2 linked regions of the Homo sapiens genome follow. The protein of the gene in region 2 purifies or fractionates together with the protein of the main gene of each other region. This does not show direct contact. Each region holds a gene or a part of one and is shown on either strand. Other genes may lie near its edges.

Region 1 (7,813 bases), on a different chromosome or scaffold from region 2:
GTCACTCTGTTGCCCAGGTGGCATGAGTACAGTGGTGCAAACATGGATCACCACAGCCTTGGCCTCCCAGGCTCAAGCAATCCTCCCACCTCAGCCTCCCCAGCAGCTGGGATGACAGACACACCACCATTCCTGGCTAATTTTTTTTTTTGGTACAGGCATGAACCACTGTGCCTGGCCCATAAATGGATTTTTATGACCAGTATTCCACTGGTTTACTGAAGTGAGAAAGGCATTTTTATTAAAACTAGGAGTAATCAGCCGGGTGCAGTGGTTCATGCCTGTAATCCCAGCACTTTGGGAGGCTGAGGTGGGCGGATCACCTAAGTTCAGGAGTTCGAGACCAGCCTGGCCAACATGGTGAACTCCCATCTCCACTAAAAATACAAAAATTAGCCAAGCGTGGTGGTGCCCACTTGTAGTCCCAGCTACGTGGAAGGCTGAGGCAGGAGAATCACTTGAACCCGGGAGGCAGAGGTTGCAGTGAGCCGAGATCACGCCACTGCACTCCAGCGTGGGCAACAGAGTGAGACTCCATCTCAAAAAAATAAAACAAAACAAAACAAAAAAATATATAAACATAGGTGGGCCGAGTAGAAGAAGGGAAGGCAAGAGATGAAGCCCAGGACCACATAACAAAGACCCTCAAGTGAATGCCCAGCTTTGGAGTTTGGACTTGATCCTAAGAGTTACAAGGGACCACAGAAAATTTCAGAGCCAGTGAGTGCTGTGACCAGATTGCACAATCCCCTACCCTTTGGACAAAATGGGCTGGTGACAGTCTCCTGCACACAGAAAGCCTCCAGGAGAAGTGCCCAATTAAGATGGAAAGTTCCTAAATTGCTATGTTAGTCACTGGAAACCCCAGGCCAGATTGCTGGTCAGTGGGAAGTGATGTCAGCTGGGTCAGCGGCTGCTTCTAGCAATACAGAGAAGAGAACGGATGGAAAAGGAAGGACCATCTCCCCCCACGAAGCATTGGTCATCCACACACACTCCCATCTTGGGAGGCAGCATGACGTAATGGGAAAACAGAAGCCCAGGGCCACCCCTCGTGGGTGGCAGCAGGAACTCAGCCACAGCCTGACTCTCTGTGGGCTGAACTTTCCTTACTCGTGATGGTAATACAAGAGAAACAGGAATTAAACTCTAAGGTGCCTTCCAGCTTAGACATTTTTGTTCCATGACGGTGCCATATCTTAAGGTGTTGACCAATCAGCATTTAACCAGACCCTTTATTTATTTTATTTAGTTTTTTTCAGACGGAGTCTTGCTCTGCTGCCCAGGCTGGAGTGCAGTGGCGTGATCTCAGTTCACTGCAGCCTATGCCTCCCAGGTTCAAGCAATTCTCCTGCCTCAGCCTCCCAAGTAGCTGGGGCTACAGGGCATGTGCCACCACTCTCGGCTAATTTTTTGGTATTTTTAGTAGAGATGGAGTTTCACTATCTTGGCCAGGCTGGTATCAAACTCCTGAGCTCAAGTGATCCACCCTCCTTGGCCTCCCAAAGAGCTGGGATCACAGGCATCAGCCACCGTACCCAGTCTCAACCAGACCCTTTAGAGTCGGGACATGATAGAGATCTTGAGGGGATGAGTCACTACCAAGGCCTTCTGCTAAGCTGCAGCTTTTTTCTCAGCATGGACAGGTAATAGCTGGTCATCGTAGAATATTTGGGAAACAAGAAAATGAAAGTCCCCATGATTATCCCACTTGGAGGACTCCAAGGACACCACCAGTTACATTTTGGTGTCTAATCTTCCAGACTTTTTCTACAGATATGAAAACATGTGCGAAAGTCAGCAGGACAGTAGTGGTGGTTCAGAGGCCAGATATTGGGATTCGGGGCCTGGGTTCAAATCCTGTCTCTGCTGCTTACTTGCTGTGTTTTTGGGGAAGGTGTTCATCTCCCCCTGAGCCTCAGTTTCCTCATCTGTCAAACAAGGATAACAGCAGCACCTGCCTCCGAGATTGTTGCAAGGATTAGATGAGTTCTATGTACAGAAGCACTCAGAACAGTGCTTAACACACAATAAACATGATATAAGTATTAGCTGTAAGTGTTAAACTATCTACATTCTATGAAAACCTGTTTTTCATAGAGTTTGGCCAGGTGCGGTGGCTCACGCCTGTAATCCCAGCACTTTGGGAGGCCAAGGCAAGCGGATAACGAGGTCAGGAGTTTGAGACCAGCCTGGCCGACATGATGAAACCCCGTCTCTACTTTTTTTTTTTTTTTTTTTTTTTTGAGACAGAGTCTCGCTCTGTTGCCCAGGCTGGAGTGCAGTGGCGCGATCTTGGCTCACCACAACCTCCACCTCCTGGGTTCACACAATTCTCCTACCTCAGCCTCCCGAGTAGCTGGGACTACAGGCATGTGCCACCATGCCCAGCTAATTTTTGTATTTTTGGTAGAGACGGGGTTTCACTATGTTGGCCAGGCTGGGCTCAAACTCCTGACCTCGTGATCCACCCACCTCGGCCTCCCAAAGTGCTGGGATTACAGGCATGAGCCACCGCGCCCGGCCTTTTTTTTTTTTTTTTTTTTGAGTCGGAGTTTTACTCTTGTTGCCCAGGCTGGAGTGCAATGGCACATGTCAGCTCACTGCAACCTCCACCTCCCAGGTTCAAGCAATTCTCCTGCCTCAGCCTCCCGAATAGCTGGGATTACAGGCGAGTGCCATCACACCTGGCTAATTTTTTGTTTGTTTGTTTTTTTGAGACGGAGTCTCGCTCTGTCGCCCAGGCTGGAGTGCAGTGGTGCGATCTCTGCTCACTGCAAGCTCCACCTCCCAGGTTCACACCATTCTCCTGCCTCAGCCTCCTGAGTAGCTAGGACTACAGGCGCCTGCCACCATGCCCGGCTAATTTTTTTTTTTAGTAGAAACGGGGTTTCACTGTGTTAGCCAGGATGGTCTCAATCTCCTGACCTCATGATCCACCCACCTCAGCCTCCCAAAGAGCTAGGATTACAGGCATGAGCCACCGCACCTGGCCAATTTTCATATTTTTAGTAGGGACAGAGTTTCACCATGTTGGCCAGGCTGGTTTCGAACTCCTGACCTCGTGGTCCTCCCACCTTGGCCTCCCAAAGTGCTGAGATTACAGCCGTGAGCCACTACGCCCAGCCCATCTCTACTGAAAATGCAAAAACTAGCAGAGTGTGGTGGCGGGCGCCTGTAGTCCCAGCTACTCTGGAGGCTGAGGCAGGAGAATCACTTGAACCCAGGAGGCCGAGGTTGCAGTGAGCTGAGATTGCATCATTGGACTCCAGCCTGGGCAACAGAGTGAGACTCCGTCTCAAAAAAAAAAAAAAGGCTGGGTGCAGTGGCTCACGCCTGTAATCCAAACACTTTGGGAGGCTGAGGCGGGCGGATCACGAGGCTGGTCTCAAACTCTTGGCTTCAAGAAATTTTCCCACCTAGGCCTCCCAAAGTGTTGAAATTAGAGGCGTGAGCCACTGCACCTGGCCTGAAAATGTTTTTATCCCTGATGATTAACAGTACAGGGACTATCACTCTTGAGTTCCTGAATCCTGCAGGAGTTCACCCGAGGCAGTAGAAAACCTTGCCTGTCTTCAAAGTCCTCCACAGCAGGGATGGCACAGCCTCCTGAAATGACCCATCTTAGAATCGAATGCCCACACCCCTCCCTGGGTGGGGGATGAGGAAAGCCCTAACTTGACCCTTTACAATAAGCTGAGTCTCCTAAGCCTCTCAGCAACACTGTGAGGGTGCTTCATGGATGAGGAAACTAAAGGCTCAGAGAGAGATAGTCACCTGCCTGATGTCACACAGCTGGGCAGGGCAAAGCAGGGCTGTGCACAAAGGCTGGCACACGCATGAGTGAACGAGACGGGGAACGGCCACACACAGAAGAGCCCCTGCGCCGAGCCCCTCTGCACACACCTGGGGCTGAAGCTGTAGGAAACCCTTTTTACACAGGCTCAGGCAAAGCCCAACAGAGGCAGCTGCCATCACGGAGACAAGAACTAGGCGTGGCCAGATTATCTGCCAACAAGTGTCGGATCTGAAAGAGCGTGGCTGTCTGTGGCTGCGGGATCTTCTGAATCACTTTAGCGTTCTCACTACACTCTCCCAGTATCACCATCAGCTCTGAGGGACTGTCTTCTTTCTAAAATGACCCACAGGAAGCCAAGAATTTTTAGGACTGAAGGGTCAATCACAGTCACTCGTTCATTCAGCTGAAGAGGGAACTGGAGCACTGGGACTGGGCGAGGAGCAGTGGGCCGGAGGCACCGCTGGCTCTGATCCAGTGTAGGAAGTGGGCTGACCAAAGGCTCCAGGCCAGCTCCAATGGGTAAGAGTGGGCAGCCCGCATCCTCACCACACCAAGGCCTGGCAGCTCATCATTCATTCTGGCACCTGCCCTCTAGCCAGGCACTGTCCCAGGCTCTGGGAATACAGCAGTGAAAAACTAGACAGGTAAGGCCCCTGCCCGCACGGGGCTTCCATTCCATAGGGAGAGACAGGTGGAAAAAATTCAGGAACGAGGGGACATCAAAGGCTGTGAAGCGGAATGAGGGAAATGAAACACGGTGATGGGCTAGAGAGGAACAGGGGCAGGAAAGTCCTCTTGATTTCAAAGAGGTGCCACAGGAGCTTACCTGAAGGACTGTGACAGACAGAATAATACCCTTGGAAAACATCCACATCCTAAGCCCCGAGACCTGTGAATATGGTACCTTACATAGCAAAAGGGACTTTGCAGGTTAGATTAAATCAAGGATTCTGAGATGAGATTATCCTGGATTCTCTGGGTCTGGCCAAGGTAATTACCAGGGTCCCTGTAAGGGGGAGGCCAGAACATCAGATTCAGAGATGAGGTGATGGTAGAAGCAGAAGTCACAGAGACAGATGTGATGATACACACCCATGGCCTTGATGATGGAGGAAGGGGCCATAAGCCACAGGATGCTGCAGGCCTCAGGAAGCCAGTCAAGGCCAGGAGACCGACTCCTCCCTAGAGCCACCCTGAGTTAGGACTTCTGACCTCCAGAATGCTGAGATAATAAACTTGAGGTGTTACAGGCCACCAACTTTGTAGTGTTGTGGGAAGTCAGGGGCCCCGAACAGGACCGGCTGAAGCCACGGCAGAAGAATACAACTTGTGAAGATTTCATGGACATTTATCAGTTCCCAAAATTAATACTTTTATAATTTCTTACGTCTGTCTTTACTGCAATCTCTGAACATAAATTGTGAAGATTTTATGGACATTTATACTCTTATAATTTCCTATGCCTGTCTTTAATCTCTTAATCCCATCATTTTCATAAGCTGAGGATGTATGTCACCTCAGGACCCTGTGATGATTGCATTAACTGTATAAATTGTTTGTAAAACGTGTGTTTGAAAAATATGAAATCTGATTGTAAAACGTGGGTGTTTAAACAATATGAAATCAGGGCACCCTGAAAAAGAACAGAATAACAGTGATGTTCAGGGAACAAGGGAAGATAACCATAAGGTCTGACTGCCTGTGGGGTCGGGCAGAATAGAGCCATATTTTTCTTCTCACAGAGAGCCTATAGATGGACGTGTGAGTAGGAGAAATATCGCTGAATTCTTTTCCCAGCAAGGAATATTAATAATTGATAACCCTGGGGAAGGAACGCATTCCCGGGGTAGGTCTATAAATGGCCACTCTGGGGGTGTCTGTCTGATGCAGTTGAGATAAGGGATGAAATATGCCCTGGTCTCCTGCAGTGCCCTCAGGCTTACTAGGATTGGGAAATTCCAGCCTGGTGAATTCTAGTCAGACGGGTTGTCTGCTCTCCAACCCTGTTTCCTGTTAAGATGTTTATCAAGACAATGCGTGCCCAGTGGGACATGGACCTTCACCAGTAATTCTAATTTCACCTTTGCCTTGTGATCTTTTATTGCCCTTTGAAGAATGTGATCTCTGGGACCTACTCCCTATTCGTACACCCCTCCCCTTTTGAAATCCCTAATAAAAACTCGCTGGTTTTGTGGCTCGGGGTCACCATCACGGTCCTACCAATGTGTAACAGCACCCCCAGAGGCCTAGATGTAAAATTTCTCTCTTTGTACTCTTTATTTCTCAGACCGGCCGACACTTAGGGAAAATAGAAAAGAACCTACATTGAAATACTGCGGGCTGGTTCCCCTGATATTGTAGTAATCTATAACTGCAACAGGAGGAAACTAATAGACTAGAAAGCTAGCCCCAGGTAACACAGGGGGAAGAACGTCCCAGGCAGAGGGAACAGCACCTGCAAAGACCCTGTGTCTGGCCCAGGGAGGTCAGTGTGGCTGGAGCAGGGGAGTGACAGTGGGTGTGGAAGAAGAGGAGGTCAGAGAGGCCAGCACTGGGCAGATGTGTCAGAGTCAACATGCCTGGCAAGGTGTTCAGATCATATCCATCCCAGTGGGGAGCCTCGCAGAGGTATTCTCCAAAGAAGATGTGCAAATGGCCAACAAGCACAGGAAAAGATGCTCCACAGCATTAGTCATTAGGGAAATGCAAATCAAACCACAGTAAGATGCCACTTCACACTGGCTCAGGTGGCTACCATCAAAAAAGCAACAATAAGGCCGGACATGGTGCTCACACCTGTAATCCCAGCACTTTGGGAGGCCGAGGCGGGCAGATCACCTGAGGTTAGGAGTTTGAGACCAGCCTGGCCAACACGGTGAAACCCTGTCTCTACTGAAGATACAAAAATTAGTCAGGCACGGTGGTGCATGCCTGTAATCCCAGCTACTTGGGAGGCTGAGGCACAAGAATCGCTTGAACCCAGGAGGCTAAGGTTGCAGCGAGCCGAGATCATGCCACTGCACTCCAGCCTCAGCGACAGAGCGAGACTCTGTCTCAAAAAAAAAAAAATTAAAAAAAGAAAAAAATAACACATGTTGACAAGGATGTGGAGAAATGGTCATCCTCATACACTGGTGGTTCAGCCACTTTAGAAAACATCTGGTAGCTCCTCAAATAGTTAAACATAAAGCCAGATGCAGTGGCTCACACCTGTAATCCCAGCAATTTGGGAAGGTGAGATGGGCAGATCGCTTGAGCTCCAGAGTTCAAGATCAGCCTGAGTAACATGGTGAAACCTGTCTCTACAAAAAATACAAAAGTTAGCTGGGTGCAGCAGTGCACACCTGTAGTCCAGCTACTCAGGAGACAGGAAGATCGCTTGAGCCCAGGAAGTTGGGGCTGCGGTGAGCTACATTTGCACCACTGCACAAAATCTTGTATGTGAGTGTTCACAGCAGCACTATTCACAATGGCCCAAAAGTGAAAAGAACCCAATGCCCAACAACTGATAAATGAATGAAATGTAGTATATCCATACCATGGAACATTATCCTACAATAAAAAGAAACTGGCTGGGCGCGGTGGCTCACGCCTGTAATCCCAGCACTTTGGGAAGCCGAGGTAGGTGGATTACACGGTCAGGAGATCAAGACCATCCTGGCTAACACAGTGAAACCCCATCTCTACTAAAAATACAAAAAAATTAGCCGGGCATGGTGGCAGGCACCTGTAGTCCAAGCTGCTAGGGAGGCTGAAGCAGGAGAATGGCATGAACCCAGGAGGTGGAGCTTGCAGTGAGCCGAGATTGCGCCACTGCACTCCAGCCTGGGTGACAAAGCGAGACTCCGTCTCAAAAAAAAAAAAAAGAAACTAAGTATTGACGCATGCTACAACATGGATGAACCTCATGTTAGTTGAAACAAGTCAGTCACAGAGCACTATATATTATATGATTCCATTTATATGAAATGTCCAAAATAGGCAATGTCTAAAACTCAGGAAAATGGAAGGAGG
Region 2 (7,760 bases):
TGTTGTAATAAGTAAATGAGATAATCCATGTAAAATGCTTACCACAATGGCCAATAGTAAGCCTTGACAGGAGGTAGCTTTATTATTATTACTACTATTATTTTGAATCTTTATTGAATATACAAATGCACACTTAATGTGATTTTACATTTAATTTTTAAAGTAATTATTAATGATTTATATAATAATTTCCCTTTTCTTTCTTGAGAGGAAGAAAATTGAATACAGCCTATTATATATCATTTGCAAAAAGCGTTTCTCAGTACATCGTAAGTGTTGAGAGGTTTTTACGGTGTCAGCTGCTCCAAATAATTTAATTTAAATACCAATCTATGGTAATGTAATCAGATGAGTTGTCTCCAGAGGTTCTGTATGTACTACGTTATCATGTCTGTAACGTAAACAACATATTTCATTTGGGCTTTTGGGCTCTTGCTTTCACTAAAAGCCATAAAGTCATCAATGATAACCACAGAATATATTATCTTGTGATTACATTATTTTTAATAACAATACTTGACAAAAGTGATTTGAAGAGTACTATGTAGAATATGTTTAAAAATAAAAGTAATTAAATGAAGTAATGAAAGAATGTAGTAAAATATCTGTTATATGAAGACACTATTAAAAAAGAGAATTTGGCCTAAGCAATGGCTTACCAATCAGGTTGTGCCTCAGACTCACTCCTGGGGCTTGACAAAAAATGAAAGAAGCTGGACCCTCAACCCAGACTTCCTGAATCAGCAGCTCTAGGAGTGGGACCTGCATCTGTGTATTTAAAAGACTGCATAGGTGATTTGTGTTTGTGAATGACTGGCTTACCTTATCCTGCACACACTGGTCATATCATATAGGCTGCTATATGAGCTGCCTTTGTAAACATAACCTGACACTCACCGTCATCAAGAATCACGATCGGCTCGAGAGAGCTTTACTTAGTATATTACAGTTGTTTTCTACATTTAAGCTTGGGCTGTCAGCTGTCCTGAGCATACAAAGGACTGCCTCTTTGATTCAGTCCTCTGTCACTCTCCTTCCCCTCTCGAAGGTCAAGTTTTCCCTACCTGCACCTCTTCCCCTCTTTCTCCCTTCGCTGTGCCCACAGGAAAACTCGGCATGTTTAGCACAGGCAGTTGCCTCAACACCCTGAACTGGGCTAGCCTTGCCTTCTTGCTGAGCCAAGAACTTGTGCAGCACCTGGTCAGGGCCAGCTCAGTAGTCCAGGCAGTCAGTAGGCATGACCACCTGCACAATGAATTACAGCTGAAGTATCATGGAGTAAACATTTTAGACCCTTTCCCTGTGAGAGAATGAATACACAAAGGGACAATGGCCAGCTTATATATAAAAATAGAACTCTGCAGGCAATGTACATCAACCAGTCCAAGAAACCAACCTACCGTCTACAGTATCTAACAAGTTAAACTATCAGTAACTGGGTTAAACTGTAGCAACTAGCCCAGGCAGCCAAACAAGAACCCCTGTAGCAACCTGTCTCAAATGGCCAGGACTTGAATAATTACTGACCACTTCCTCAATTTTTGCTCCTACTTCCAACTTAGGGCCAACCAGAGAAAGCCAATTATGTACCCCTAAACAAACACACAAAATACCCCCTTTTAGGTAGCTCAACTACAGCTTCCCCATATCAACAGCCTCCAATCAGGACACAGCTGAAGCCTTCTTCTCCCACCCTCCTCCATCCTCTGTCTGCTTTTGAGTCTCTGCCAAACACAAGCAATGGTGCTGGCTCCCTTGCTTTGAAAAAAATAGCTTTTGTTTGTTCTCATTTGGGTGGTCCTCATTCATTTTCACCACTAGGAAAATAGGGCTGCATGCTTGAAATGGATCACTGAATTGTTCTTTGATGCCAGAAATGTCTGTACTTTAGGGAGGCTGTTAGATGTGGCCAGAAAGAACACAGCAGTAAGGGGAGAAGTGTAGAGTAGCTGGGGTTAAGGACATAAGCCTTGGATCCAGACTACCATGGTTCAGATCCTGGCTCTTCCATTTCCAGCTGGTGAACCTGAACAAGTTACTTAACCAATTTGTACCAGTTTCCTGACCTGTTAAAAAAACACTGGCGATGATAATGACTCACAGAGTAATTGGAGAAGTTATATGAGACAAGCCATGTAAAGCATGAATATCTGGATTTCAATGCTATCAACAGAAAGAGAGAGAATAATCTGCCTCACTAATTTACCACACCCACCTGGCCCCATTCACCAACATTAAACTGGACTAAAAACACTTTTCTTTCTCAAAGTCAGTAACTCTAGGAAATCAACGGGTATAAATACTGTCCACGCCAAAATCCATCTCAAAAAGATCTGATGGGGAAGTGACCTTATCCCTCAAAATCCCTCAAATGCACACTGGAAATCTCGTTTTCTAGAAATCAGACTTTTTTTTTTTTCTTAAGGGCCATAACTTAAAATTACAGAGCTTAAAATATATAAACATTTTTTGTATAACCAGAAGCCCATTGCTACAATTCAAAGACTGTCACCATACTGTTCATCAGTAACAAAGAAAACTCTCCTCTTAGGCCTTCTGCTAGTCCTGGTAAGAAAAATCCTATTTCAGACCATTAAAGCTAAGTTATTTTGACATAATCATGATTCTTTTCAATAAACATTAAACATGACATTGTGGAATATCAAATCTAACCAAAAATGCCTGTACTTAACAAAACGAAGATTTTTGTCCGAATTATCTCTGGCTACACTCAACACTTCCAGCAGGCAGTTGCTCAACTTTCCAATGTCTGCATAAAATACAGTTCTGAAGCCAATTTTTTTAGATTAAAATAAAAAGCCACCCTTTAGCATAAACCTTCATTCAACGAAATTGGGTAAATAAGATTTAATTAAGAAAATTAGGAGCCGCGTTCATTGCAAACCGTAGTTTACTTTAGCATTTCACTTGTAATTAAGTTAGGGGCTTAGGGATGCATTGAAAACACCAAAGGATAAGTATCTCAAAGTTCTAAAAATGTCTCAATACTAAAATGATGTTCTGGGGTGATTTTGCAAGGACCAGAAGACATCATACATTGCGAACCCAGTGAGGGTGGCATCGCGGACGAACAGAAGATGCTTTCACGCTGGTTATCTGTCTTTCCCAGGCCTCGGCTCCCTTGACTTTGCAGCGATACCCAAAATTCTTTGAAAGAGAAGGGAGGGAAGGCATCTGGGTCCCAGGGAGTCTCTGCATCCAACCCAGGAAAGGAGGGGGCCGGCTCCCTGGCGGGAACTTCCCGGAGGCCGCGCCAGCCCCGCGAGGGACCCCAGCCATGCAGGGCGACGCCGAGCGGGCCCCGCGGCGCGCTGGGCTCCCCCGCCGCCCCCGGCCGGTCCCCGCCGACTCACCCAGGCCGCGCCAGCCCAGCGCGCCGTCGCAGCTGTCCAGAACAGCGCAGAGCTCTCCGAGCAGCGCGGGCGGCAGGTCGAACAGCAGCGTGTGCGCCGACAGCGCGCCGCGGGCCCCACAGTTCCCCGCCATGGCTCGGCTGCCCGAGCCCCGGGGACGAGGCGGAGTCCAGGTCCCTGCACGCCTGCGACAGGCCGTTACACAACCGCGGAAATCCTGCTTCCACGACGGCAGCAGAGCCCTAGGAACACGCCGTTCTCCGGTCACTGCAGGGGCGGTGCCCACGTGACGCAAGGCGCGCCTCGCCCGAGATGCCCCTGCGTCCGCCTGGCCAGGCCTGGGGGTTACCCGACCCGGGTTCTCCCTTCGCTGGCTTTGCGCCCCTTCACACCTCTGCGGTGGGGACGGAGCTGCCGAGACAAGCAGAGTGCGAACTGGAGAAAGCCCAGAGCTCAGAGCTCCCAGGAGCCCACCGTGCCCCACGGCTAGGCGGTCTCCTGGTGTGGACGGCTAGCGGTGTCATTACTTCTTACAAAAGTTTATTTTTGAAAGCTTCTCCCTTCCTTCCTTCTTCCCTTCCTTTCTTTTCTTCCTTTTTTCTTTGTTTTGAGTCAGGTTCTCACTCTGTCGCCCAGGCAGGAGCGCAGTGGCGCTATCTCAGCTCACGGAGCCTCCACCTATTGGGCTCAAGCGATCCTCCCACCTCAGCCTCCCGAGTAGCTGGGACCACAGTCGCACGCCACCACGTCCGGCTAATTATTTTTTTTCGTTTTTCGTAGAGAGGGAGTGTCGTTATGCTGCCCAGGCTGGTTTCAAACTCCTGGCCTCAAGCGATCCTCCCACCTCCGGCTTCCCAAAGTGCTGGGATTCGGGGTGTTAGCCACTGTCCCGGACTACTTCTTTTTTATCCTGTCAGAAAAACTATCCATGTTCATCGAGGAACACTTGGAAAACCCAGAAAAAAACTGAAAAAAGAAGATAATCACTCACAACCCCACTCAGCCCATCACACTCTAAAAGTTTTGACACATTTTCCTCCCAACTTTTACTGAATTTAAACAGATAAAAATGTACATATATGGGATTATTATTGGAAAAGATGAATGTAGATACCAACAAGAGAAAAACAGAAAAGACACCAAATCAGCGTAAAATTATGTTCGTTTTCTTCACGAGGCGGCCTCTCCTCCATACACCTACTTGGTTTTAATAAATTTTCTTCCTCATGGGCTTCCTTGATGAAATATCGTTCCATCATTTTTTCCTTCCTCAAAGTGCTTCACACAATCTTCCTTTTTGCCTTCAACATGGAGTTTAAGTAAAATTGTTGTTTTGAAATCTTCACGGAGTTTAAGTAAAATTGTTGTTTCAAAATCTTCTAGGTCACATGAGGCATGTTACCAGTGACAAAAAGTTGTTTTGAAAGTGGTGAGAAAAATCTCAGCCTTAGTGACTGGAAGAGTGGGCAGTGGCCATCAAGTGAAAACACCAGAGGTGTTTTGAAACCTCTCAGATTGTAGTCTTTGGAATAGCTGCCCCTAGAGATCACGAGTGATGAAACACTATCATTTCATGCCCCTACCTGAATGGTTTTGCCAGCGAAAATACTTCATAAAAATGTATCTGAAAACTGGCAAAGCCCATACTGTGTGGGCAAGAATTTCGATATCCCGTTGTTCAAGGTTTTATTGTCAATCTGTACACACTGTACACCTACCTACCTTCCTTCCTTCCTTCCTTCCTTCCCTCCTTTCTTCCTTCCTTCCCTCCTTTCTTTCTTATTTGTTTTTTTTAGTCGCTCTGATTGCCCAGGTTGGGGTGCAATGGTGCGATCTCGGCTCACTGCAACTTCCACCCCCTGGGCTCAAGCCATCCTCCCACCTCAGCCTCCAGTACAGCTGGGACTACAGGTGCATGCCACCATGCCTGGCTAACCTTTGTAGTTTTTGTAGAGACGGGGTTTTCCCATGTTGCTCAATCTGGTCTCAAACTCCTGGGCTCAAGTGATCCACCTCCCTAGGCCTCCCAAGGTTCTGGGATTACAGGCATGAGCCACCACACCCGGCCCTCTATACATCTCTTAAAGGGACTACCTGAACATGCTGAGCAACAGAGGCAAAAGGCCATTAATTATTTGGTAGCTTTTGAATTGCTACTACAGGGAGGCAAACTCACTCAGAGGAAACAGGAAATCACTGCAGATGAGGGAAGCAATCAGAAAGGCCTGCTTTACCAGATCTTGTAATTTACCAAGAAGCAAGGATCCTAAGTGAAAGCTAGAGTATGTGAAATTTCCTGTATTTTCAGTGTTGGCAGTCGTTCTCAGACCATGTTGCCTTCCTATTCCTAAAACTGTCTTGAGTTTTGATTTTTATATCATCAGGTTGTATCATCATGGTTGCTATCAACTGCTGATCTCCCCGACTCCAATTCCTTCTCCTCGTTTTTAGACTCTCTAGCTCCTGGCTCATTGTTGCTCTCTCCAGTACTAATCCTATCTTAGTTCTCAGTGATTTAAAATATATGTAGAATAACTATTCACAATAGCAAAGACATGGAATCAAGCCAAATGCCCATCAATGATAGACTGGATAAAGAAAACGTGGTATGTATACACCATGGAATACTATGCAGCCATAAAAAGGAATGAGATCATGTCCTTTGCAGGGATAGGGATAGAGCTGGAGGCCATTATCCTCAGCAAACTAACACAGGAACAGAAAATCAAATACTGCATGTTCTCACTTATAAGTGGGAGCTGAACCATGAGAACACATGGACACTTGGTGGGGAACAATGCATACTGGGGCCTGTCAGGGGAGGGGGTAGGGGGAGGCAGTGAATCAGAAGCAATAGCTAATAGATGCTGGGCTTAATACCTAGGTGGTGGGATCATCTGTGCAGCAAACCACAATGGCACATATTTACCTATGTAACAAACTGCACATCCTGCACATGTACCCTAGAACTTAAAATAAAAGTTGATGAAACAAAATTAAAACATACACACACACACACACACACACACACATATATATATATATATATGTAGAATAGATGGTGATCTTTCCAATGCCCTGGCCTCTCATTTCCTTGACTCCTCTTCTCTGGTGACATTGTACTCCACCCAATGCTCCATTTCAGACACTTACTCCCATGAGCGTCCCCTAGAATTTGTCATTATCAATAGCTGCATCCCATCTATAATTTCTTTCATGAATCCACTCTCTGATCATACCTCCTGTCTTTCTAGCACATTCCCTCTAGTACTCTGACCCCAACAATCCTGTCCCTTCACCAGATATCCAATCCAAAATCTTGCTGCCTCTTTTCTGGCTCCACCCTCTTGACATCCTGACTTTTCTGCTTATCCATTAAGTCTGTGGTCAATTATTTTATTCACTCCTTTGCATATGCTCTACATTCCCTTGCTCCTCTCTCACTTTGTTGAGCTCTCTTGGCAAGTTTGCAATTCTGATTAAATCCAATTTTCTAAGTTGGCTCCACACCCATGCACCTGAGTGTAGCTGGGGAACGGGGTGGAAAACCAAAATCCTGTTAATTGAACTCAATTTAAAATCAAGGCCAAGACTCTCAAGTGGGTCCTTTATGCCACTGGACAAGCATACTATGCACCTTTAGCCCATGCATTCTTCTGGTCTCCTTGAAAGCTATGCTATACTTTCTTTTTTCTCAACTCCCATCATCCTGTCCTCCACCAATTATCTTGAGAATATTTATTGAGAATACTGATGCATCAGGAAAAAACTTCCACGGAATCTCACTACTACATCGAACTATCTACTAGCATCTTTGCCAACATACTCTTTCTTCGTGTTTTCCATGGATGAATTATCTAGGGTCCTATGTAAATCATTATACTTCGTTTGTGCACTGGATCCTATCCCTATTACCATTTCAAAGGCATCAAGGGCACATGCTTTCCCTGGTCCCTGTTACATGATCAGTTTTTCACTCTTTACCACCTCAATTCCATCAGCATACAAATATGATGTTGTTTCTTTCAACTTAAACCAAAATTTTTTTAAATTTTATTATTATTATACTTTAAGTTTTAGGGTACATGTGCACAACGTGCAGGTTTGTTACATACATATACATGTGCCATGTTGGTGTGCTGCACCCATTAACTCATCATTTAGCATTAGGTATATCTCCTAATGCTATCTCTCCCCACTCCCCCCACCCCACAACAGGCCCTGGTGTGTGATGTTCCCCTTCCTGTGTCCATGTGTTCTCATTGTTCAATTCCCACCTATGAGTGAGAACACGTGGTGTTTGGTTTTTTGTCCTTGCGATAGTTTGCTGAGAATAATGGTTTCCAGTTTCATCCATGTCCCTACAAAGGACATGAACTCATCATT

Evidence for each region.
Region 1: the proteins of IRAK3 (region 2) and IRAK2 purify together in Homo sapiens (co-immunoprecipitation; 2 studies listed by BioGRID and IntAct, with this or other methods). This does not show direct contact.

The regions. Positions count from the first base shown.
Region 1 is NC_000003.12:10,167,271-10,175,083, reverse strand, and holds part of IRAK2 (interleukin-1 receptor-associated kinase-like 2), read right to left. Parts: intron 1-7,813. UniProt on the Homo sapiens protein: Binds to the IL-1 type I receptor following IL-1 engagement, triggering intracellular signaling cascades leading to transcriptional up-regulation and mRNA stabilization.
Region 2 is NC_000012.12:66,185,047-66,192,806, reverse strand, and holds the start of IRAK3 (interleukin-1 receptor-associated kinase 3), read right to left. Parts: upstream 3,594-7,760; 5' UTR 3,508-3,593; coding exon 3,375-3,507; intron 1-3,374. UniProt on the Homo sapiens protein: Putative inactive protein kinase which regulates signaling downstream of immune receptors including IL1R and Toll-like receptors.